Homo sapiens: one gene and its partners. The protein of the gene in region 2 interacts with the protein of the main gene of each other region in a biochemical or structural test. Each region holds a gene or a part of one and is shown on either strand. Other genes may lie near its edges. The genes, in order: SNTG1, ATRNL1, FRMPD2, ERBIN, FRMPD3, DLG1 and DLG5.

What was found.
Region 1: the proteins of ATRNL1 (region 2) and SNTG1 interact in a test that uses a peptide from one of them, tested with the Homo sapiens proteins (one large-scale study listed by IntAct).
Region 3: the proteins of ATRNL1 (region 2) and FRMPD2 interact in a test that uses a peptide from one of them, tested with the Homo sapiens proteins (one large-scale study listed by IntAct).
Region 4: the proteins of ATRNL1 (region 2) and ERBIN interact in a test that uses a peptide from one of them, tested with the Homo sapiens proteins (one large-scale study listed by IntAct).
Region 5: the proteins of ATRNL1 (region 2) and FRMPD3 interact in a test that uses a peptide from one of them, tested with the Homo sapiens proteins (one large-scale study listed by IntAct).
Region 6: the proteins of ATRNL1 (region 2) and DLG1 interact in a test that uses a peptide from one of them, tested with the Homo sapiens proteins (one large-scale study listed by IntAct).
Region 7: the proteins of ATRNL1 (region 2) and DLG5 interact in a test that uses a peptide from one of them, tested with the Homo sapiens proteins (one large-scale study listed by IntAct).

The regions. Positions count from the first base shown.
Region 1 is NC_000008.11:49,914,407-49,917,906, reverse strand, and holds part of SNTG1 (gamma-1-syntrophin), read right to left. Parts: intron 2,934-3,500; exon of another isoform or gene 2,885-2,933; intron 1-2,884. UniProt on the Homo sapiens protein: Adapter protein that binds to and probably organizes the subcellular localization of a variety of proteins. May link various receptors to the actin cytoskeleton and the dystrophin glycoprotein complex.
Region 2 is NC_000010.11:115,096,365-115,099,864, reverse strand, and holds part of ATRNL1 (attractin-like protein 1 isoform 1 precursor), read right to left. Parts: intron 3,221-3,500; exon of another isoform or gene 3,026-3,220; intron 1-3,025. UniProt on the Homo sapiens protein: May play a role in melanocortin signaling pathways that regulate energy homeostasis.
Region 3 is NC_000010.11:48,236,697-48,240,196, reverse strand, and holds part of FRMPD2 (FERM and PDZ domain-containing protein 2), read left to right. Parts: intron 1-504; coding exon 505-592; intron 593-2,073; coding exon 2,074-2,206; intron 2,207-3,500.
Region 4 is NC_000005.10:66,024,075-66,027,574, reverse strand, and holds part of ERBIN (erbin), read right to left. Parts: intron 3,270-3,500; coding exon 3,125-3,269; intron 2,096-3,124; coding exon 2,023-2,095; intron 1,728-2,022; coding exon 1,598-1,727; intron 1,274-1,597; coding exon 1,158-1,273; intron 1-1,157. UniProt on the Homo sapiens protein: Acts as an adapter for the receptor ERBB2, in epithelia. By binding the unphosphorylated 'Tyr-1248' of receptor ERBB2, it may contribute to stabilize this unphosphorylated state.
Region 5 is NC_000023.11:107,561,152-107,564,651, reverse strand, and holds part of FRMPD3 (FERM and PDZ domain-containing protein 3), read right to left. Parts: intron 1,542-3,500; coding exon 1,452-1,541; intron 1-1,451.
Region 6 is NC_000003.12:197,064,613-197,068,112, forward strand, and holds part of DLG1 (disks large homolog 1), read right to left. Parts: intron 2,143-3,500; coding exon 2,092-2,142; intron 1,198-2,091; coding exon 1,096-1,197; intron 853-1,095; coding exon of another isoform or gene 839-852; exon of another isoform or gene 837-838; coding exon 664-836; intron 1-663. UniProt on the Homo sapiens protein: Essential multidomain scaffolding protein required for normal development. Recruits channels, receptors and signaling molecules to discrete plasma membrane domains in polarized cells.
Region 7 is NC_000010.11:77,808,256-77,811,755, reverse strand, and holds part of DLG5 (disks large homolog 5), read left to right. Parts: intron 1-135; coding exon of another isoform or gene 136-172; exon of another isoform or gene 173-287; intron 288-521; coding exon 522-662; intron 663-2,025; coding exon 2,026-2,209; intron 2,210-3,500. UniProt on the Homo sapiens protein: Acts as a regulator of the Hippo signaling pathway.

The DNA of each region.
Region 1 (3,500 bases), on a different chromosome or scaffold from region 2:
GTTTTGTTCTAACTGAGCAGAGCTGAGTCGAGGACTCTTGACGGGCTCACTTTCTGCAGTGTGATGCAGATCTCACTGGCTAGCCTCCCTCCTTACATGAACTGCCTGCACCCTGAGGGCATTTGAATTTACAATCTATGCAAAGAGATATAGGTTTGAATAAGAAAACAGAAAAGGGAAAGTCTAGAACAAAGCATTAACAAAAGAACTATGTGGTGATGAGGATAGTATGTTTGGAAGAGAATATAAAGCATGGGGGATTTATCTGGAGAAATGAGAGAGCGGTAGTTGATCAGAGCCATGTGCATAGACTAGTCTAACAGGCTAAGTCATAACACTCACCAGCTTCAACAAATCCCGGTCAATGTACTAGCCATTGTATACAATTTGCTCATTAACTGTTCCCAGCAACACACTGCAGTGGACATCAGACTTAGAGACTTCACATTCCTTGCCCAAGTTTTTGTCATTAATGCCATTTCTATAACAGGATTCGAACTTAAGTCTGATTCTAAATCCCATGTATGTTCCACCATGAGAGCACGGAAACATTTTCAAGAAGAATGGCATGACAGATGTGGAAGGAAAGTTTATGAGTTCAACTAAACATAGACATTGTTTATTTTCTCATGGACATAATAATGATTTACCAATAGGACCAAGGATATAGCTGAGCAGTTAAATTAAGATAAAGTGATTTACCCAAGTCCACACAACCAATTGATGACAAACCATGTTGAACCTCAGATTTTGTGTGTACTGGATGCATTTTTAACCATAAAATACTCTTTTCTCATCTATGATCTAAATTTCTTAATCTCACATACTTATTTCTCACCCCTTGAAAAGATTCAAATAAAATTTATTATTTTTAATATATATATTTTTTTGAGATAGAATCTCATTCAGGCTGGAGTGCAGTGATGTGATTATATCTCACTGCAGCCTCAAACTGCTGGGCTCAAGTGATCCTCCTACCTCAGCCTCCTGAGTAGCTGAGACTACAGGCACATTCACCACACCCAGATATTATTTTTTTATTTTTTATGTTTTTTTTTTCTATTGAAGAAACGAGGTCTCACTGTGGTGCCCAGGCTGGTCTTGAACTCCTGGCTTCAAGTGATCCTCTTGCCTCGGTATCCCAAAGTGTTGGGATTATAGGCATGAGCCACTGTACTTGGCCTTTTCATAGTTTTATATAAGTAACACATTATTGTTCAAATTTTGGCACCATTTCTAAAAGATTTCTATTTTCTATTAGCTTATTTAGTGAATTTACCAGGCAAGCACTTATTCTTTTAAAAAACTAAATCTTAGACCGAAATTGTGAGTAAATTTGTTAAACATAGAGCATATAATTACTTCACAATTTTTAATTTTAAAAATATCTTCAAGTATGTACATTACATATGATGAAGTGATAATAAGCAAGTATTCAAATGAATTGATTTAATGACACTCTTTTTGAAAAAAAATATAACATGATCACTTTATCTTTGCTGACAAATTGAAGACCAAATTCAGGAGACCCAAAATGATTTTCTGACTCTTTCAGTGTGTAGAATGTGCTGAAGAAACTTCACGGTGAAAATTTAAGGATAATTCAAAGATAAATTCTCTGGCCTCAAGACATTATTTTAATGACCTCTTACTCTCAGTTCTTTTTCATTTTATGTTTTTGACTGTTTCTGGGTTTTTGTGTGTGTGTGTGTGTATTTGACAAAAAAAAATCTGAATTATATTACTAAGTAAGTGATGATATAATTTTTTATCGCTGGTGCAATTATATAATTTAACCACAAAACAATGCTGGAAATAACTGTAACACCAAACATTGACTTATATTTCCTAAGAATACTGTCAGTATATTTTTAGTGATAGTCTAGAAATCTATACAGACCAAATGTTGATAAATTACATTGAAAAAATCATAGTGACGTTTAAAACCCGACTAAGAAAAGCAAATAAGCAATGAAATACTGCTTATTCGATTTTCTAAAGAGATGTCCTAAAGAGGCCTATGAATAAAATCTAGGCTTTCGACTAAATCAAAACAACATCTTAACAGCATTTCCAGGCTAGCCCCTTAGATCAGCCCGCATGTTGTCCACATTTCACTCCATGCTCACAAGCCAGCAGTCAAATCACAATGCTTTCTGTATGTTTTAGGATATGGAGTTTTGAAGTGTATTTCATCGTATGAGTTTCCTTATCAATATCACTAATGACAAACATTAATCCTCCTTTATAAACTAGAAAATTATGACACGACATGATAGATTCTTTGAAGGTCAAAATGAAAGTTGTTGAAATAGACTCAGGTCAACTAAGTTTGTCCAATTGATATAGAATGTGGTGTCAGTTCTGAGTAATAAAATATTTTTGAAACCAAGTCCACCTTCATTGAATATCACTTATATTTATACCATTAAGAGATGTAAAGGAAATGACTGCTGAAGTATCAGGGAAGTATTATATTCCCTATGCTGAGAGTTGTTAAGTATAAGGGATGTGCCTGTTATTTAGTAATTAGTGGGATTTTTTTTGACGAATGAATGAATGCTATTGGAAATTATTTATAATAACTCACAGATATAACACTTGTTTCCAAAACACTCTCAAAATCATTGAATTTCGACTTTCCAGTATCCCACAAAGTAGGCATCATTCACTTATCTCATGAGTGTTCAGGTATCAGCTGTATGTAAATTATTGTGTCTTCATTGAAAAGTAAAGAATCCCCAAATTTAAGGAAGAAAAATTCAGCTGCAGTGGATTGAGTGACTTGTAGAAGATCTTATGGCCAGCAGTTAAAAAATTCTGATCTTTTGACTGTCAAGTAGTACTTGTTTCCCTACAACATGATGTGTAACATGTTTCTTACCACAGGATGTTGTCTCTTCCAACACATGCTATGTGCTCACTCTGCTAAGCTAAATAGGAAGAAAACACCAAATAAGAGATCTCTCTCCATTTGAATTCTATTCTATAACACACTGTACAGATTTCTGGGAAGGTGAGATTACTATGGAAATAATTTCTAGCTTACAATATGCTTTTTTCTTTCCTAGTGGCTTTTGTGTTGCTTAACAGAACTAGGTGAGTAAGCAGGCTAGCTGCTTGGAATTTATAAATCTTTAAGTGGTCAAAAACAGCCAATTACTAAATATTAGCAATAGTCATTTTTTACTTTTATATTTTTTGATAAATGTTTGAACTTGATTGAAACCCAAGTAAATAACTCCAAAGGCAAACTGTGAGCATTAAAATCCAATACGATTTCATGGTATGAATAATTACATTAGAATATACAAGTAATATTTATATAGTCTATGCAAAAATTAATCAAGAAGTGTTTTTATAACATTTTGGAAGAAGGCAATTGAATGGATTCCAGGGCTCATTTTAAATTATCCTCTGGTCCTATATATACTTTACATTTTCTAGATTATGTAATCCCATCTCACCTTTCTCTTTTGAGTCTCAAATGTAAGCAACAG
Region 2 (3,500 bases):
GACTGGTAGAAAATATATGCAAATGATATACCTCATAAGAAGCTAGTAATCCAGAAAATGTAAAGAACTCACAAAAATCAGTAAGAAAATTTTTTTAACATGCAAAAGGTTTGAATAAATGCCTATTACAGAAGATATACGGATGGCAAGTAAGCACATGAGAAGATACTCAATATCATTAGTAATTCGGGAAATGCAAACTAAAACCCAATAATATACCATTCACTTATTAGAATCACAAAAATTTAAAAGACTAACCATACCAAGTATTGGTATGGATGTGAAATTAACTAGATAGAACACTGACTCACTGCTGGTGGGAACATAAATGATACAACTACTTTGGAAAACAGTTTGTCGGTTTCTTTAACAGTTACACATATATCTACCCATATGATCCAGCCATTCTCAGGTTATTTCCCCAAGAGAAAGGAAAGCATATGACCATACAAAGATAAAAAGGCTTCCACATGAAACTTCGTAGCAGCTTTATAAGGAACAGCCAAAAATTTGAAACAATCCAAATGTCCATCAGCAGTTGAATGGATAAACAAATTATGGTGTATCCAGACACTGGAACACTATTCGGCAGTAGAATAAACTACTAACACACCATGAATGAATCTCAAAATAAACACGCTGTGTGAAAGAAGCCAGACAAAAAAGAAGTATATAATGTATGATTCTATTTACAAAAAGTTCTAGAAAATACCAACAAATCTATAGTGAGAGAAAGCAGATCAATAGTTGCCCTGGGACAGGAATTGGCAACTAGAAAAGGGAGGGTTTACAAAGGAAACACATGGAAACTTTCTAGCGTGATTGGTATTTTTATGATTTTGATTGTGGTGACAGTTTCAGATGCAAATACATATGACAAAACTTATCAAATTGTATAATTTAAATAAATTGTACATTTTAAATTGTGCTGTTTGACAATTATACCTCAATCTCTTAAAAATTTTGTTTAAATAACTATCAAAATTATAATTAAACACCTCATTTTTGACAATACTAAGAAGGAAAAATAGTGCTATTAGGGCAGTATATAAGGGGTAACCTAGTGTGAAGAGTCAGACAAGCCTCCTTTAGAAACTAGTATTTAAGTGGCCAGGCGCAGTGGCTCACGCCTGTAATCCCAGCACTTTAGGAGGCCGAGGCGGGTGGATCACGAGGTCAGGAGATCGAGACCATCCTGGCTAACACGGTGATACCCCGTCTCTACTAAACAAAAAATTAGCCGGGCGTAGTGGCGGGCGCCTGTAGTCCCAGCTACTCGGGAGGCTGAAGCAGGAGAATGGCGTGAACCCAGGAAGCGGAGCTTGCAGTGAGCCGAGATTGCGCCACTGCACTCCAGCCTGGGTGACAGAGCCAGACTCGGTCTCAAAAAAAAAAAAAAAAAAAAAAAAAAGAAACTAGTATTTAAGCTAAGATTAGAAGGATGATCAGTAATCACCCAAGCAAAGACCAGAGAGGAAAGAGTTCACAGTTACGTGTATAAAATGCACTAAGGCCAAAAGGAATGTGACACTTTCAAGGAACTTCAAAAGGCCAGTCAGGGCAGAGGAAAGGAGGCCTGAGTCTAATCAGCTAAAGGGGCCAAATCATGCAGACACGTGTTCTTGAAAACCATGCTACTATGCTTCTACAAGTAACTTACCTTATCAATTTAGAATCTAAGAAACACTCAATTTAAATTATTTTAAATTCCTACTGTGTGATTATACACTTTAATAATGTAAAAATAATCCATGGATATAAATTATCCATTAAAATAAAACTTTGAAATAAAGAAGTCTTAGGGACAGGGAACATTCAGTTTAAGTTTATAATTACTGTCAGTTTCCTTACAAGTAAAAAGGATTCCAAATATATATGTATTTACATATGCATATATATATATTTGTTTTTTGTTGTTGTTGTTTATTTTTGTTTTGTTTTGAGACGGAGTCTCGCTCTGTTGCCCAGGCTGGAGTGCAGTTGCGCGACCTATGCTCACTGCAACCTCCGCCTCCTGGGTTCAAGCGATTCTCCTGCCTCAGCCTCCTGAGTAACTGGGACTACAGGTGCGTGCCATCACACCCAGCTAATTTTTGTATTTTTAGTAGAGACGGGGTTTCACTGTGTTAGCTAGGATGGTCTCGATCTCCTGACCTCATGATCCGCCCGCCTCGGTCTCCCAAAGAGTTGGGATTACAGGCGTGAGACACCAAGCCAGGCAATATGCATATATTTTTAACAGCTTAGGGGAAGAGTTTACACACTTTATTCTGCCCGTTTTTGTCTATAATAACAACCTAATTCCTGACATTATATCATTACATCTTCATTTTGCTGTCACTACAAATAGAATGCTTCATATATGTATATATAAATTTTTAAGAAGAGTCTCGCTCTGATACCCAAGCTGGAGCGCAGTGGCGTGATTACAGCTCACTGCAGCCTCAACCTCCTGAGCTCAAGGAATTCTTCCGCCTCACTCTCTCTTGTAGCTGTGACCACAGGTGTGTGCCACCATGCCCAGCTACTTTTAAAATATTTTTTGTAGAGATGAGGTCTCACTATCTTGCCCAGACTGGTCTCAAACTTCTGGGCTCAAGGGATCCTTCCACCTCGGCCTCCCAAAGTGCTGGGATTACAGGCCTGAGCCACGGCACCCAGCATACTTCCATTTTAAATGCGTGAAATGAAGTATCCAAATTTGACTAACCTAAGAGGGGTAAAAATATACCCCTTTATATTTGACTAATATAAAGAGCAATACTCTTTATATTTATATAAATTTATATAAATCTCTACTCTACAAAATTAATTCTCAAGGGCTCCCTTCTAAAAGAGAACGTCATTCAAATAGATTATAGCAGAATATTTTCTTGCTTAACATTACACTGAACTATTCAAATAAATACAACTTGAATTAGAGTCTGTATCTTTGATTATTATATTTCAAATATATTTTCCTATTCTCAATCCCAAGTCCTTTAGTCTAGCTTTGGGTGAAAAATCAATGTTCCTTTTGTTTTACCTGTGTAAGGAAGGAATGGCTTGTTATTCTGAGTGCTTTATTCTTTTCAAATGGAAACAGAAGACTGGAATCAATGCTAAGAGAACTGAAGTACCACTTTTGATACTATATTTGCTTCTGCATTTCTTCCCCCAACTATCAATCTTCTATCCTCAAGAAACATTTGAAGAACATTTTTATTCCCTGGCGAAATCCCTATAGTAGAAAAAAAGCTAAGTTACCATGGAGCCAACCAATTAATTTTGACACCTGCTTACCAAGATTGATCAATCATTTTTAATGTCTGTTTGTAAGGTTGCTATCCTTCAGTTTAGAAAAAGATTTTCAAGATAGTTAGTGAAGTGAGATTTTCTAGTTAAAGCCTTTCCCACTGTGTTATTACTTCAAATGCCAGGTAAAACAAGCTACTATCTTCAAATAAACCTTTCATAGGTTTATTTGCATGTACTTTACCAAGAAGAATTCTTTTCTACTA
Region 3 (3,500 bases), about 67 Mb from region 2:
ACCTGTGTTCCCAGGAAAGTCTTATTTGGGGACACAACACAGTTATTTATATCAAATGAAAACTTTAAAAATGAGTTCTAACTGTCCAAGTTGAGAAAATCCAAATTGAAACAAACAACAAGAAAAGAAAAACTTGATTTTTTTTTCAGTTATTGTTCTGGGTGTGTTAAAAGAGTGGTTTTTGGAATAATCTTCAAATCTACTGTTCTCTACTTTTCAACTAAATCTGAGCTTTTTTTAAAAAAATTAATGTTATTGTTTGTTGTCTCTAAAACAAAGTGCACTTTGCCATTAGGCTTTATCTTCCCTTGTAACCCTCCCTCCAACCCTCTGTAACTGTCATTTCTGTTTTCTACATGAGGAAACAGATTCAGAGAGGCTAAGGAATTTCACCAAGGTCACACAGCTAGTAAGTCATGATGCCATTCATGCTCTGAGATGCCTGATTTAAGAAAGCCGTGATCTTGGCTTCTGCCCATACCCTCTACCATGCTGCTTGATTAGTTTCAGAAAGAAGCACGGAGACCCAGAGCTCACCAGAGCCCCATTGGAGCACCTTGACACACAGTCACTGCAGCCTCCTTGTTAACCGGTAAGCAGCAAGGCCTAAAGGGTGCTGTGAACTTGATGTGAGACATAGGTGTGGGGGCTATGGTACCTTATTTCTTTACTGATTATTAGTAAGAAGCCTCTTGCTCCTCCAGAAAATGCCAATGCTATTCCATTAACAGATGAAGAAGCCACATTTAAGCAGATCCGAAGCCAAGATAATGAGGGGCCTGGTGGCAGCTGTGCTGTCAGGGCATCCTGTTTCCTCTGGGAACCATACTCAGGCCGAGTGGCGGAGCAACAACATGCCTCAATATTGTTGCCATTATCCATTGCCATACCATGCTGCATAACAAGCAACCACAAAACACAGTGGCTAAAAGCAACAATTATGAATTTAGCTCATGATTCTGTGAGTTGGTCATTTAGGCTGTGCTCAGCTGGGAGGTCTTCTAGACTCTGCTGAAAGCCTTCCTGCCTTTTTGACTGTCTTCGGCTCGGCTATCCAGCTTCTCCTGCGGGGTGAATGGCCATTGTCTGGGAAGCTCTGGCTCTCCTCCACCAGCAGGTCAGCCTAGGATTGTTCTCGTGACAATGGCAGAACTGACAGAGAGGAACTGAGAGAGAGAGAGAGAGACAGAGAGACAGAGAGAAAGAGGAGAGAGAGGAGAGAGGACGGCAAGGTGCATAAAGCCTTCAGAACTGGTCTTCCATCATTTCCACTTCATTCTGTTGGCCATATCAGGCCTAAAGGCCAGCCCCATTTCAAGGAGTAAGAAATAGACTCCATCTCTTGATGGCAGGAGGCTGCAAAGTCGGATTGCAAAGGGTGCAGATCAGGGAGAAGAACTGTGGACATTTTTGCAATTGTCTAACTTAGGATGCTTGAATCAGATCAAAACCTAGATGGGCTCATATCTTCCTGGACCTGGAACGGTGTTTATTTTGAAGTTTGGGTGATTTATTTATTCACATGGTGACCTGTTGAGGGCTGTAACAGTGTCTTGTCATAGTTGATGTCAAATCCACAGCTGACGCCCTGATTGGATATCGTAGAGTTTATCTTGCAATACTTTTTCCTGCCATTTAAAACTTTATTTTCCCAATGAAAACAATTTTTACCCCCTGATTCCTTAAACAATATATTTTATTGTCAAAATATTTTGAACAACATATCAAATTCTAAAGAAGCCAGAACTGCTGCAGTCCCATGACCTGCTGGGTGGTTGCTCTAGACCTGGGGTCCTGGCACCACAAACAGAGAGGTAAAGCCATGGGGTGGAGAAGTCGACTGTGCCTTGTACCTCCAACCCCACCCCACCCCAGTGGCTGTGCAGCCTGGCTTCTCCAGGCCTCAGCTTCCCCCACTTGAAAAATGGATATAACTCCCCCATAGGTGGGGGAGAAGGTGACATGCATCAGTGGGTGCACCCTGCCCAACTGAGCCCCTGTGCGGGTGGTCTTTCATGCCATGGAAGCCCTTGCCATTGCTAAGTGCTTCACCCCTTCTCAACCCCTGGCCAGCGCTCTTCCAGGAGCAGATCCCCAGGACCAGCAGGCGGGCCGGAGGCTCAGCTCTGGATCTGTGCACTCGGCAGCAGACAGCTCATGGCCAACAACTCCTTCTCAGAGGGGTTTTCTGCAAAGAAGGAGCAAGGTAAGCAAAATAAGGCTGAAGGACACTCCTCAAGGAGGCTTGAGCAGGGAGCTGTGGGTGGCTGGCACGGTGGCTGAAAATGGGCAGGGTCTTCTAGGGGACAACTTCCCTGGGCTGAGGTTTATAGGATTGGACTAACATAAACCTGAAATTTGCAACTTAGGGCATAGGCATTCACTGAGTAGCCTCACTGGGGAAGGCTCTATGGGGGACGCTGTATAAGATGTAGGGTTAAAGATGCTGGGTCCCACCCTAGAGGAAGCCACCGGTGCGCAGGGTGGTGGCAGAGCGTGCTACATGATTCGAGAACTGACAAGGCAGAATGTGTTTGGAAGGGGCCTTCTGCACAGGTGAAAGGTGGGAGCATAGATCCAGGGCCGCAGGGAGGGCTTCTATAGGGAGGAGAGAGTTATCCTTCCAGCTGGCTAACCCTAAGAGGGTAATAGGGTTAGGCGGAATGTGCCTGTCTGTCTGTCAAAGTTAGTTAAGGTCCCTTGACTGAGCTGAGCTCCAAATAGCCTCAGGATGTCCCTCTTCCTGTTTGGCCTATGGTTCCCATACGCTGGCCTGGCCCGCACTGTCCTCCTTGGCCCTTCTCTGGCCTCCATGAACTTGGTGGAGGGCGTGAAGAGGGCTTCTGAGAGGCTTTGTCCACCTCCTTTGGCTTTTCTTCCTGATCACTCACTAGAGATACTTCTATTGGGAACTCTTGCAGGACACAAGTCACTTCTGGGCTGGAATTTTGGCCTCTTGGGACAAGAGTCCTGCTAGGTACCCTTGGGGGCACTATAGAAGCCCTACCCAACCCTATCTCTTGCTGGTTATATGACTCAGGTGAGCTTCTTAAGCTTTTTTTTTTTTTTTTAAAGGTGAGGAGCCTCAACTTCCTCACCTGTAAAATGGGTTGAGAATATGCACCCCACAGGGGGATAGCTGGGTCTAGCTAGTGATGGGTATTGCAGTGTTTTCTGGGTCAAGTGTAATACAAACACACTGAGAACAAGAGGTGCCCACTAAGCTATTGATTCAACATCTAGAGCTAGAAAACATTTCAGCTCATCTAAATCTAAAAGTATTTTTGTTTTTTCAAGTATTTTTATTGCATTTATATTTATATTATACATTTTATACTTTTGATACATACAAAAGATGGAGTTCTGTGTAAATTATGAAACTTATAATTCACCCCGAACACCCCTGTACCCAACTTAAGAGCCAGAATGTTGCTGATACCCTATACCCACCTGTAAGACTTCTGCTCCAAGATGTACCATTCAGCTGGGGCCTCAGCCCA
Region 4 (3,500 bases), on a different chromosome or scaffold from region 2:
GGAATAACAATGGGAAAGTTGGTACACGTTCAGTACTGACACAATTTTTTTCCAAATATTTCTGATCTGAAGTTGTTTGAATCCACACTTGCAGAACCCACAAATACAAGGGTCAACTATAAATACTCATTAGAATACTAAATGAAAATATCTTATTTAAGAGAGAATTATCTACTTCAGCCTTGCTATCTTATACCTAACTAGTCTTCCGTGCCTTTCTTTCAGCAACCCACTGTGGGCCGTAGGAATTAAAGGCTGAAACGTGACTTAAGAAAGCAGTGGTTCTTTTAAATAAAACAGAAGTTAGAATATCATAATTAGTCAGAAAATTGAGTTTAAATTAAAGCTCTACCTTACAAGCTACGTGAGTCACCTTAAATCTGAGTCTTAAAACCCTCCTACATAAAATGGGAATACTATTATACTATTTCATAGAGCTGTTTTGAAGACTTCACAAGACACTATGAAAGCAAAAAGTGAAAACACTCTACAAATGCTGTTTAATCATCATTAGTATGTTTACCTCACGAAAAAGTATGGACATTCTGTTTTTAACTTAAACATTGTTCCAATTTACAACCCTAGTGATCAATTTACTCTGCACCTTGGCTTTGTTGAAACCAGATCTCTGCCTAGGAAAATATTAGCAACAGACTAGATACATTCCAAAATTGTTTTGTTAAATAGCAATATTCAGGTGAAGATGTGACTTCAGAAATAAAAGGTAACTGTAAGAAGAGAATAAAGACTATATAGCTAAGTCAACCCAAAATGAACAGTAACAACCACCGTATGATAAATTAACATCAGATAAAATAAGACCACTCTTTGTATTTAAAGAAAAAAATATATACAGTTAAGTCCTCATTTAAGTTATTGATAGGTTCTTGGAAACCAAAACTTTTAGCAAAACTGTGTATGGCAGGTTCTCAAATAATGTCATTTTCTTATAACACTGATGAACGAAAGAAGTGATTTCATTGTATGTTGTTTCACTGAAAGTCACACTTTCCAAGAGCCTATCAATAACACTGAGAACTTACTATGTATATTTAAAGAGCAACAAGCACTAGCTATTCTATTATATATCATATGAAACTTAATTTCATCTAACCAATGTCTCCTATAAACCAACTGATGAATATAGTATTACGAACCTATTATCACTTAAATTAATGACTTTTAATTTTTGCATATCACCCATTTCCTCTGGAAGTGTCTCAAGTTTATTGGAATGGAGAAACAGCACAGTTATATTTTTCCAGCTTCCAATCTGAAAGAGAAATATAAACTGAGTATCAAAAAATTTGGCCTACAGGTTGATCAACATATAAAAAACATCATTTTTGAAAGTTATGAAAAATACTTCACATTTATAGAAGAAATAATGACTAGACTTTCTTTTTAATTAATTTTTATGTACATAAGAAAGCATTTAAGAACCTCTTCTAAATTAACATAGCTAATTATTCAGAAAATAAATAACTTGAAAACTATTTTAGAAAGAAAATAAATGAAGCCACACTAAATAGCTATAATGAAGATAATCAGAAAAAAATGAAAAGACAAAAATCTAAACAAATCTAAAATACATTACCTCTGGGGGCAACTGCTGTAAGTAATTATGATCAGCAGCAAAAGTTCTTAAGTTAGTAAGCTGCCCAATAGATGAAGGCAAAGCTTCAACTTCATTGAAACTACAATCCAGTTCTTCTACTGATATTAACCTTTAATTTAAAAAAAGAAATATATATTATTTGTTAAAGATTTCCTATATATAATCCAAAATTTCAGAACATATAAACATTTGAACTTGACTTTGAAAACCTAGTGAAACCATTTCACAAAGCTAAACTTCACCAATAAGTAGGTTTGTCTATCATAAACACACTCAACCTGTATACTAATTACTTAAATGTTTACAAAATCTTTAGGTCATTTATGCAAATACCTGAAAATATGTATGGCATGCTGAACTGAAAGTAAAATCTTCGAGGGTGTATACATTCACAAAAAACTTACCCTCCTATAGAGTCTGGCAGATACATTAACTGGTTTTCATCTATTTTAAGCGTTGTTATATTCTTCAACGAACCTAATGAGGGAAGAAACAACATACAATTTTTCAGCTTAAAATAGAAGCAAGTCCACCAACAGTCAGTGTGAGACATACTACATCTGACAAGAATTAGAAACAACTTTCCTAACAAACGTATCTAAAAGAGATACCACTCCCAATCCCAATGTTCTATTCCCTCATCCTGTCCTTTCAATCTTCATCCACATCACTATTTAACATAGTGTACATTTGTTTATTAACTCCCACTAAAATATACTGATAGTAGGAACTTTTTTGTCTTCGTTGTTCACTGTTGTAGCTCTGCTTCTAAAAACAATGTCATGGCACAGAAAAGACAGACAATACAAACTTGTTAAATTAATAGACTAAAGAAATGGTAGTATGAAGGTAGTTCATAACAGGTATATAAAAAACTATTCCATATATACTAAATACTAAAACAGTAAAATATTTTTTAAGTTTAAAAAGTGTTGACTAAGAGTAGAATCGTAACAAACTTACAAAAATGTAGTTTTAGCTAAAACCACTACGTGATTTAACTGAGAAATATTTTTGGTTTTTAAATTAAAACATCAAAAAGATGTCAAGATTGAAGTTTTGGGTCCTTTCATCAAAATAATTCAATTCCATTGACATATCATTGAACAAGCAACTACACAGACTCAATCATAGATCTCTCATGATCTGTTCAACTGATCTGTTTTCTTGTCTGAGTGTCTGTAATGAAACAGGACTGAAAAAAGTTACCAAAATAAAAGCTATGACAATAAAAGCTAACAGTTAAGCCAAATTTGCATAAGTTAACTTATTTTAAAGAATTTAAATATATTAGAAATAAAAATGAGATTACCTTAGAGTAAATAAAAAACAGTAATGTCAACAAAGGAGCAAACTGTACAACTGATCACACCAGGAAAAATTCAAATAAAATCCGTTCCTGTGGTAACGAAGTATAACTACCTCATAACAAGTGAAATTTGAGATTATGTGGAAGTCTCGAATTTATTTTAATAAAAATTACATGAATTTGAAAGCAATACAAACCAATAGTCTCAGGAAGCTGCTGAAGTGAATTGCTTGATAATAGGAGGTCTTGAAGGTTTTCACATGTTGAAATTCCTTCTTCAACCATTTCAATATTATTTTTAGAAACATCCAAATATGTGAGCTGTTTCAAACTACCAATAAACTATAAGTAAAAAAAGAAAATCTAATGACTCTATTAACATTAGTAATTTGTAAAAAGTTTAGGGAATAAACTTGATACCAAGTTTTAATTCAAAATTAAATGCTAATACAAGAAAGAAGACTCCCAGGTAGTTTTTTAAATGCCATTAGAAATGTATTCAGTAATATAGCTAAGATGTTCTACTAATTGTAGCATAGCAGAAGTGACAAAGGACATATTCTTTGGGAATTC
Region 5 (3,500 bases), on a different chromosome or scaffold from region 2:
CAGGTTGAGTAAAGTGCACAGGCAGAAGGGCTAGCTCAAGCAAAACCGTGAAGTAGGTGAGGTTTGTTTGGGGGCCTTTGGAGCACCCTCCCCTTCCAAGCCCCAGGGGCTTTCCATTTGTTGCTGCAGGCCATTTGAGGCCCCCACCCAGTGCTCTGCCTGAGAAGGCGGCATCCTGTGTCTGGTCTTTACCCTCCCCCCACCAACAGCCACTCAAACTTGCACTTCTCACCCAGGCCAAAAACTAAACTGGCACAGTAACTCTGCCTAAGGTGTTGAGGGTTGATTGGGTACTTCATGGCAGCCTCCCTCGTTAAGCAGAGATTTGCCTTTTAATGGGCACTCCAGCAGGTATGGCCAATAGAAATTTTAGCAGTGGTAGGTGGGTGGAAGAAAGATTTGACAGTGTATGAAGGAGGTGGGAGGGGACAGTGGGCTTTCAGTGTTCTGCAAATCCCAGTATGTAAATGGCTACCTCTCGGCCTGAAGGACTGGATTCCCTTAAGAGGTCTTGACAGATTCCTTGGAGCAATCAAGCTTGGGTCGTCTGGAGGCCCATTCCCTGGTATTAGCATCACCCTGAGGAACCTCTTGTGCCTGTCTATAGGCACTTTGATAAGTGGCTTTCCACCGATGTGCCGCACTAGCTGACAATGTGCTCCTGGGAGCAAGACAAGCACCTGGATCCAATTAGCAAGGTGATTTGAATTTCCTTTCACCAGGGTAAACTAGCCTGGGGCACAGTCTTAGGGTGGGACCAGCTGTGCCCTGCCCCAGAGCCTTGTTCCTGCAGCAAAGGTGCTGAGCAAGCAGGGGGAGAAGTAGAAGGACTCAGGAAACCTAGGGTAGGGGACTGTGGGAGTATGTGGAACAAAAATGAAATAGAGCAGGGGTTGCCTAACCATGGCCCATGGGCCAAATACCACCCACCACCTATTTTTTATGGCCCAGGAGCTAAGAATGGTTTTTAGATTTTTTAATGGTAGGGAAAAAAAATCAGAAGAGGCATGTTTTGTGACATGTGAAAAGTACATGAAATTCAAATTTTCGTATCCATAAATAATTATTGGTAAACAGCCACACCCATTTGTTTATGCATTGTCTGTGGCTGCTTTCATAATCTGACAGCAGGGCTGAGTAGTTGCCACAGTTGCCAGTATGGCCCGCCTGCAAAACCTAAAATATTTACTATCTGGCCCTTTATGGAAAAAGTATGCTGCGCCCCCAAATCGAGGAAGAGGAACAAAAAAAGGTCATGGAGGGATACTCAAAACAAATATCTCCTCCCACTTTATCATTTTGGCAGAGGCAGGGCCAGGGAGGTAAGAGGTAGAAGGAGGAGGAAGAGGAACGAAGGCCTTTAGAAATATTTGCCCCTCCTGCCCCCACACCCAAGGACAAGAGCCAACAAGGGGCTCCCTCCCCACATCCCCCAATCCTGCGCCACTGACCAGGCCTACAGTGTTGAACAAAACGCCCGTGAAGGTAGGAAGTTCATTCAGAATTCGTAGATACTGGAGCTTTGCCTGAATTGCAGAGCCCTGTGGAAAAACCCATCCAGAAATATGAGAAGCCTGAGGGGCACAGGAAAAGCAAACCCATGTTCTCAACGAGGAGTCTCAACATCCTAGGACAGGCACCAGTCAGCAAGTGACACTGTGGAGATGTGAAGATGCCCTTCTTAAAACAGCAGCAAGGTTCTAGTTTGGACAGCTCTTCCCTCTAGTATCTCATCTCCCTTTCTAAAATCTTGTCCTACCTCCTGATCTTCATTCCTAAAGTATCCAGCTTACTCATTTTGTTTTTGGTTTAATTCCAACTAACTGACGCCCCACCTAATCCATACCTCTCTCCTGAGATGTTTCAGACCCCTAGAGTCATGTACATGCTGGTCATTCCCCAGCTGGGGGTCCCACTCAATACCGTTCATACTAAGCATTCCTAAGTCCCAAGCCTGCACTTCAGGCATTCCTGGTCTATATCAGCATCCCCTGGGCAATCAAGCCAGAAACCTGTGAGTCACACTGGACTCCTCCTTAATCGCCTCATGTGAGAGCCAGCAGTTACCAGATCATCTGGATACTTACCCCCTAGCTCCTTTTCCAATCTATCCATCCCTCTTCTCTAGCCAGTCATTGCCTTGACATTCCCACCTGTGTCAGGGTGACAGCCAGGTTACCTTCAGGACTGACACTTGTTTCCCTCTTTCCCTCAAGTGCCTCCACACTGTTAGAGGGAGCATCCTAAAACATAAGTTTAATCACATCAGCTCCCTGCTTTAAACCCTTCAATGGCTCCCAGCTGCCTAGAGGATGAAGTACAACCTCTTTCCTTGGCACACAAGGCCCTCCATGAACTGGCTCCTGCCAACCTCTCTGGCCTCTTCTCTTGCCCCTATCTTCACCCCTTGCACACAGCTTGCATTTTCTGTACTTGCTTAGGCTGAATGATTTGCATTTCTGTCCTTGCACCATGGTTTCTCATATCTCTGGGCCTTTGTACAGATGGATCTCTCTGCCTGGGAAACACTTCCTCCCATGACCCATGCCCACGGATTAATCTAGACAAACTCTTATCTGTCTTTCAAGACCCAGCTCTGGCCTTTTCCACCTCCCTCAGGCTGGGCTTAGTGTTCTTCCTCTGTGCTTCCAGAGCACCTGTGCCTAATGCACTGTGTTGGGACTGACTAATGTGTTTCCCCATTAGACTGTGCCTGACTCAGGGGCCAAGACCAGGCCCTCTTCATCTTCATATTTCCAACCCAAGCACTGGGGTGCCTCGAAAAAAATGTTACCTGAGGAGATGGTGGTGAGCACTGATGCTCTCAGTTGAGAAGAAAACAATCTGATTAAATATTCACAGCAAGGTGGGAATGGCTTAACTCTCCGGGGAAATTTGCATCTTAAAAGAGAAGCTAGTTGGTAATGCAAGAAATCTGGAATGGGAGGAATGTATGGGGCGATTGCGTCCCATATGTACATCTGCATGCTGATTCTAGTGCGTCTCACCACTCTCCTGCTTCTAGGGCAGGAAGCACAGGCAGATTGAATCTTACAAAGCTAAGAAGCTGCTGCGGGGCTTGGGAAAGCAGACAGTGGGAGTCCCTCAGAGCACTAGAAAGTGGAGGCAGTAACCTGATCCCTCACCATTCCACCCAGTGACCCATTCTCCAGGTCAGGTCTTGTGCCCCCAACTCTCCCACTTTCCCCTGGGCTGGGGTTTTGTCTCCCAGAATTCCACACCCTAGGACTGATGAATTAGAGGTACAGAGGTACATTTCCTTTTTTTACATTTTTTTTAAATTATTTTTTTAAAAGTAAAGACGCTGTCTCACTATGTTGCCCAGACTGGTCTCAAACTCCTGGGCTCAAGTGATCTTCCTGCTTTGGCCTCCCAAAGCGCTGGGATTACAGGCATGAGCCACCACACCAGCCTAGTCATTTCCATGGAAAACATGTGCCTCCCTAGGGTCCAGTGCTTTCCACATGATACATGCTCAG
Region 6 (3,500 bases), on a different chromosome or scaffold from region 2:
GGGTTTCTGGTCTCTGTTCCCTGTTTTTATGAGTTCTTTATATATTGGGAATATTAGCCCTTTTCTTGCAAATTTTTTCTGTCAGTTGTCTTTTGACATTGTTAATGGTGTTTTCCAATAGTTTTTGGAAAAAGTCTTTGGCCATAAAAAAAGTTTTTTAAAAATTTTAAGTGGTTAGATTTATTGATCTTTCTTTTTTTTTCTTTTTTTAAGAGCCAGGGTCTTGTTCTGTTGCCCAGGCTGGAGTTCAGTGGCATGCTCATAGCTCACTGCAGCCTCAAACTCCCAGGCTTCAGTGATTCTCTCAACTCAGCCTTCTCAGTAGCTAGGACTGTAAGGGTGCACTGCCACACCCGGCCCTTATCTCCTTTTAATATATGCTGGAGAGCTAGGCCTAAACAAAAGGTCTATCTCTAGCAAATGACCTGAAAATAACTTCTCTTACATTCATGTTATCATTTCTATTTTCACTTTCTTTGTTTACCTTATTTACCTGTTTTATCTTGTATGCACTTTCCTAAGCCATGGAAAATTAATTATTTAGGTAAGCAAATTCATCACATTAACAAAACTAATTAGTGCTGTATCTATCCTACCAGTCTTGCATACTGTCAAAGGCATATCTGATTAGAAGCTATATTCTGGGATTAGTCTGATGCTTACCTTTTCTGCTACTTCTCGTACAGACTGAACACTTGTTCCATATAGATGATTGTTATACTGGCCAGCTTCAATGAATTTATGTTCCTGGATATCTTTTTCCATCTGCTCTCTTGAAGTCACAAAATGATAATCTCTTCCATCTACCTCATAATCTCGTTTTGGTCTAGTTGTATCTTTAACAGAAAAAAACTTGGGAAAGTGTTTAATATTAAAAAAAAAACCACAATAAATCCATTTTCTACTTACATCGTTTTGTAAAGTTCAACAGAACAGATTAATTTAAATCTGAGAAAGGACAATAATATGGAGGATGGAAGAGTAACTGATAAAATAAGTACAAACCATTAAAAAATGGTTATATCTATTTTTCCCACACACAGTGACAGGAAATGTTAAGAGTAACAATTAAATGTTTTTGTTTGGTTTACTTACGAGGAACACAGGATCCAAATTTGTCAGGAAATTCTGAGATCAAGTCATCATTTATCCTGTCTTTCATAGGTCCCAATATGATCACTGGTCGAGTATAATTAACTATAAAGATAAACTGCATGTTAAAAGGAATAAACATTCAACAAATATCAATGTATTTTATTTCACCAGCGAACAAAAATATCCTTAACTGTTATGACTAATTTTTTTCTTCCCTCTCCATCTCACTCTACCATCAACCAAAGATGCGTAACTTGCTCTTTTATAATCTTGACTCAGATCTTAAACTTTACTTAGTCTTCTGCTAGAAGTCATATTGATAATTCAATCAAGTTAAATTTGGTGTTTTCGCAGATAATGTTTCTTTACATTGCAAATGACAGAATAAAGTCTAGTGTTTTACAGATGGCTTTGAAGTAGAAATTGTAAGGAAGCAGAGCAAAGAAGGGCAGAACAGAAACTGGATGTAGGAAGTGATATAATCCCAGTAGTAGCATTCTAGAAAGATGATCTAACAGAAGTGTAAACTCTGGGTGGTCTGGGATCATGCTGGAATAATGGAGATTGGTAGTGAGACTGAGAACTAACATTGTGATAGAAGGGATGAAAAGAAGGTCATAAATAAGAAAGAAGTGGGATAAACAGTGCCTGGAACCTAACTGGATGAGGAGGAGGAGGAGGAACAGAGAAGGCTCAAAGATACTTCCAAGATTTTCAAAAAAGGGTTATTTGGAAGATAGTGATGCTAACAAGAACACTGGAACAAAGTTGCTTGGGAAATAAAACACAAATATAAAAGTCAGTATGAAATGACTAGATTCTAATATTCTGTGGAGTAAACTATGTTTCATAAAACACATGTAGTAAATTTCTACATGTATATGTAGTAAAAAAAAATTTTAATACAACATTTTTTGGGGTATGAGAATTTTTTTCCCCCAAATTAAAAAGTATATTCTTCTAGAAGGTTATAAAACATCAATAGGCTTCACAAACCTTCTTGTTGATTCACTGGTTCATAAGATAAGACGTATTCTTCTTGACCACCTATTAGAAAGTGAAGGCACAGATGAAAAATGTGTAAAGATAATTGATGCTAATCTAATTCTTCATAAACAACATATACATTACTAGAACTTTCCTGAGAAAATGGCAAAGATATGGAAAGAGGTACTTTATGGCAAGATTTAGTTAAAAAAAAGTGTCAAATTATAAAGTCTTAAAAGTGAGTTTGCTAAATGTAAAACAAAATACAAATGGGCTATATAATCAATATTATATTTTATAGATAATCAAATCTAAAAATCTTCATTTGTGATGCTATGTGCTACTCCTTTATTTAGAATCTAAGAATTATTAAATCTGTTAAAGATTAATGCTTTAATGAGCAGATCTGTCTATCATCTATCTACGTATTAGGTAATTTGTTACTATTAAAAACATGCTACTTTTTTTGTTCCACCAACTACAATACTGAATACAGTATATTTTATTTTTAAAATAATTACATCTTAAAATTAAAAATTATAAATGCAAAGGTAAAACTACTGTTACTATTTCACTGATGAAAAATTCACTAACTCAACTTTGTAAAAAAATAATAAATTTAATGTGAGTCAAAAAGAGCTTTAGATAAAACTAAATCCTTCCAAGAAAATAAACAACAGTGATAGTAAAGGAGATAAATATATTTGCTTTGACCTTAAAAACACAAGAAGTTAAAGCTTCTAAAGGTTAAATTAAAGGTTCGGAGCTTAGGAAATACTCTAAATAAAAGAGTCTACAAATTATATCTGAATATCTGAATCCAGTGAAAAGAAATAAATAGTTAAAAACTCTGAGAGTTTTTTTTTTTTTTTTTTTTTTTGAGACGGAGTTTCGCTCTTGTTGCCTAGTCTGGAGTGCAATGGCATGATCTCAGCTCACTGCAGCCTCCAACTCCCGGGTTCAAGCGGTTCTCCTGCCTCAGCCTCCCAAGTAGCTGGGATTACAGGCATGTGCCATCATGCCCAGCTAATTTTGTATTTTTAGTAAAGATAGGGTTTCTCCACGTTGGTCAGGCTGGTCTCGAACTCCTGACCTCAGGTGATCTGCCCGCCTCGGCCTCCCAAAGTGCTGGGATTACAGGCGTGAGCCGCCGCGCCCGGCCAAAAACTCTAGGAGTTTTAAACTAACACACACACATCCCCCCTCACCCCCACGCCTAAAATTAGAAAAGACTGTGTTAACCCAAGTGGTTCAATGAAAGCAATCAATATTGGATAATGTATTTGAAGACTTTCTCTTTAATTATCAAGATCCTATAACAATTTTACCATGAATTTTGCAATTGGTTTATATTATATGTATGTAGCTGTAGGTCTTTTAAATCCATACATTGGCATAAACATTCTTTTCTGTTTTAG
Region 7 (3,500 bases), about 37 Mb from region 2:
GAGAGGCTGTCTCCTCCTGAAATGGGGTGTGGAAACAGATGGCTGTGGTCCCCCTGACCAGCAGGGGCCCATGGTAGCCAGGAGTTGTGGCCCCGGGGGTGGATTCTCACTCAAAGTGTTTGGCTCCCTGTCCAGGAGCAGATGCTGTACACCTGTCTGTATCTGCCCCTGAGCTGTGGGTTGAAGGGCAGAAAAGAAGGGGAGGCATGCCCTGCAGTGCTGCGCCACAAGCTCAGCAGGAGAGATGGGATGCACAGGCAGAGGAAAAGAGACAGGATGCTCACAGCTTCCTGAGGTCAGATGCCTTTGGAGAGGGCCCCTGAGCTGAGGACAGGTGGAGGGGAGAGGACAGGTGGATGTCATGGGTCCAGGCTTCTAATGTGTCTGCTCTGCTCAGGGCACAGGGTGCAGGGCTATGTGACCTGGTCCCCATTTATAGCTCAGATCTAGTTGCCACAGGAGTGGGGGTGGCTCTGGGTGGCTTCGTACTGCTCCTTATCCCTCCTGTCCTCCGCCTCCAGCTCACACCTGGACCCTGCCGGTACCCACTCCACTCTCCAGGGCAGTGGCACCACCACCCCGGAGCATCCATCTGTCATCGACCCACTGATGGAGCAGGACGAGGGGCCTAGCACCCCCCCAGCCAAGCAGAGCAGCTCCAGGTCAGCAGACGTTGCTGTGAGCCTTCCCTGTGTCCGCTTCGGCTGGGTGGGGCTGAGCACATTCTCCAAGTGGCGTGGGCACTGGGCAGCTGGCCTCATGTGCTGCAGGCCGCACACCAGGTCTTCAGGAGTTGGGCCGGGAGCACGGCATTCCTTTTTTCCTTCCCTACTCTCTCTTTTCCTTTCTCTTTTTCTCCTGTTTTCTATTGACTTGTTTTTTCCCCTGCATCTTCTCTTTCTCTTCTCCTTTTCTTGTTCACTCGCTTTCTGAGTCTGTCTTTGGACACATTCCCACAGTCATCACCCGGCCAGGCCCTGGGCTCTGGCCACCCACAGCAGTGCTTCCCCCAATGAGGTGGCAGACCAGTGCCGGGCACGTGCAGCAGAGTCAGGGTGCTGGGAGGGCACTGCCGGCCGCCGCAGAGCAGGCAGGAAGATCACTGGAGTGTGGCAGGGGAGGTGGCAGCTGGATTAAAATGTTCAGGACAGGCAAGAGCCAAGAGTGGGCATAAAGAGAAGTCCAGGCCGAGGGAGCAGCAGAGTTCAGGAGGAGGAAGGAGCTCCATGGGAGCTGCACAGCGTCCAGCCTGGCCTGGGGCTGCAGGGAGGGCCATCCAGGCCATGGTGTGACATGATCACTCTGCCGTCCTGGAGGAGCTGTGTCTCCAGCACTGAGAGGCCTTCACCAAGCCCTGGGCAGCATCTCACAGAATGAGGCCAGCTCTGCATTCTCTATACCAGAGTCTGTCACATTGGAACTTACCTGCTGCAAGGTTTTCCTCCCGGGCTGGCATCTCCCCTGAAGCCCCCTGTATCTGTTTCCATCGCTGTCCCATCTCACTCCCTCCATGTGTTCAGCAGCTTACTTTCAGCTTCCCTTCCTTGATTGTAAGTGCCTTGATGGCAAGGGGCCCCTCTTCACAAGTTAGCAGTTGCTGGTCTATAGAAGCTTCTTCGTAGACATTTGCTGAATACATTGCTGTGCTCTGGACAGTGAGGCCAACTTTACCTTTCCTTAGGAAGTACTAAGTTAGGAAAATGAGTGTGATCCACATGGGAGGGAGGCCATCCTGATCTTTAAGGCATGAGATTGATAGCCGGGCCTGGGAGCAGGGGCACTGATTTACGGTTTTGACTGCCCCCGCTAACTGGCTTTGGACCTGGGGTCTTGCCTTCATCTCCAGTGCACCTTAGCATCCTGTCCCGAACGCCGAGCCAGTAGAACTAGAGGCCACCTCTCAGCTCCCTGTGGTTCTGAGACCCCAAGAAGCAGGCAGAAAGCGGTTAGGGCATTGGCCACTGCTTTGTCTTTTTGTGCCTCCTCTTTGTGCACAGTTGAGGAACTTTGTTTTTTTCCTGAAAGGATTGCGGGAGATGCCAACAAGAAGACCCTGGAGCCACGCGTTGTCTTCATCAAAAAGTCCCAGCTGGAGCTTGGGGTGCACTTGTGTGGTGGGAACCTGCATGGGGTGTTTGTGGCCGAGGTGGAGGATGACAGTCCTGCCAAGGGTCCTGACGGCCTCGTGCCAGGGGACCTCATCCTGGAGGTGAGTTCTGAGCTGCTGAGCAGGCCAGGCCTCCATCTACCTGCACAGTGGGCTTGCTGCCATCTCAGGTGGCACCAAAGACGGAGGAGTACAGCCTCTCATCTGGTGAGCCAGTCAGGGCTGACTTTTGTTGTTGTTGTTGAGGCAGAGTCTTGCTCTGTCGCCCAGGCTGGAGTGCACTGGCACAATCTCAGCTCACTGCAACCTTCACTTCCCAGGTTCAAGCGATTCTCCTGCCTCAGCCTTCCGAGTAGCTGGGACTACAGGCATGTGCCACGATACCCGGCTAATTTTTATATTTTCAGTAGAGACCAGTTTCACCATGTTGCCCAGGCTGGTCTCAAACTCCTGACCTCAAGTGATCTGCCCGCCTCGGCCTTCCAAACTGCTGTGATTATAGGCATGAGCTACCGTGTCCAGCCTCAGGATTGATTTTTTTTTTTTTTTGAGACAGAGTTTTGCCCTTGTTGCCCAGGCTGGAGTGCAGTGGTGCAATCTCAACTCACCACAACCTCCGCCTCCCAGGTTCAAGCGATTCTCCTGCCTCAGCCTCCTGAGTAGCTGAGATTACAGGCATGCGCCAACACGCCCAGCTAATTTATTTTTGTATTTTTTGTAGAGACGGGGTTTCATCATGTTGGCCAGGCTGGTCTCAAACTCCTGACCTCAGGTGATCCACCCGCCTCGGCCTCCCAAAGTACAGGGATTACAGGCGTGAGCCACTGTGCCTGGCCAGGGTTGATTTTTAATCCCTGTAAACCCAGAATCCTGCCAAGCCCTTCTGAGGAGGTCCCTGTGAAGCCAGGCAGGCCATTGAGGGAACCTGAGGGCAGAGCCTTGGCTCAGGCCCTGGGCATCAGGGGGTGCTCGCCCTCAGGTGATGTAGCTGCAGGACTCTGTTCTGATGAGAGAGGATGGTCTTTCTCTGTGGTCTCCTGCCTCATGGGGGAGATGGTTTGTGAGAATATAAAGGCACAAGTTGGGCTGGGTTTGGTGGCTCACACCTGTGAATTTTAGGAGGCCAAGGTGGGAGAATTAGTTGAGCCCAAGAGTTCAAGACCGGCCTGGGCAACATAGTGAGACCCTGTCTTTACAGAAAACAAAACAAAAAAATTAGCCAGGTGTGGTGGAGTGTGCCTGTTGTCCCAGCTATTCTGGAGGCTGAGGTGGGAGGATCACTTGAGCCTAAGAGGTATAGGCTACTGTGAGCTGTGATTGCACCACTGCACTCAGTCTGTGTGACAGAGGGAGACCCTGTTTCAGAAAATAAATAAATAAAAGCACAGGCAAC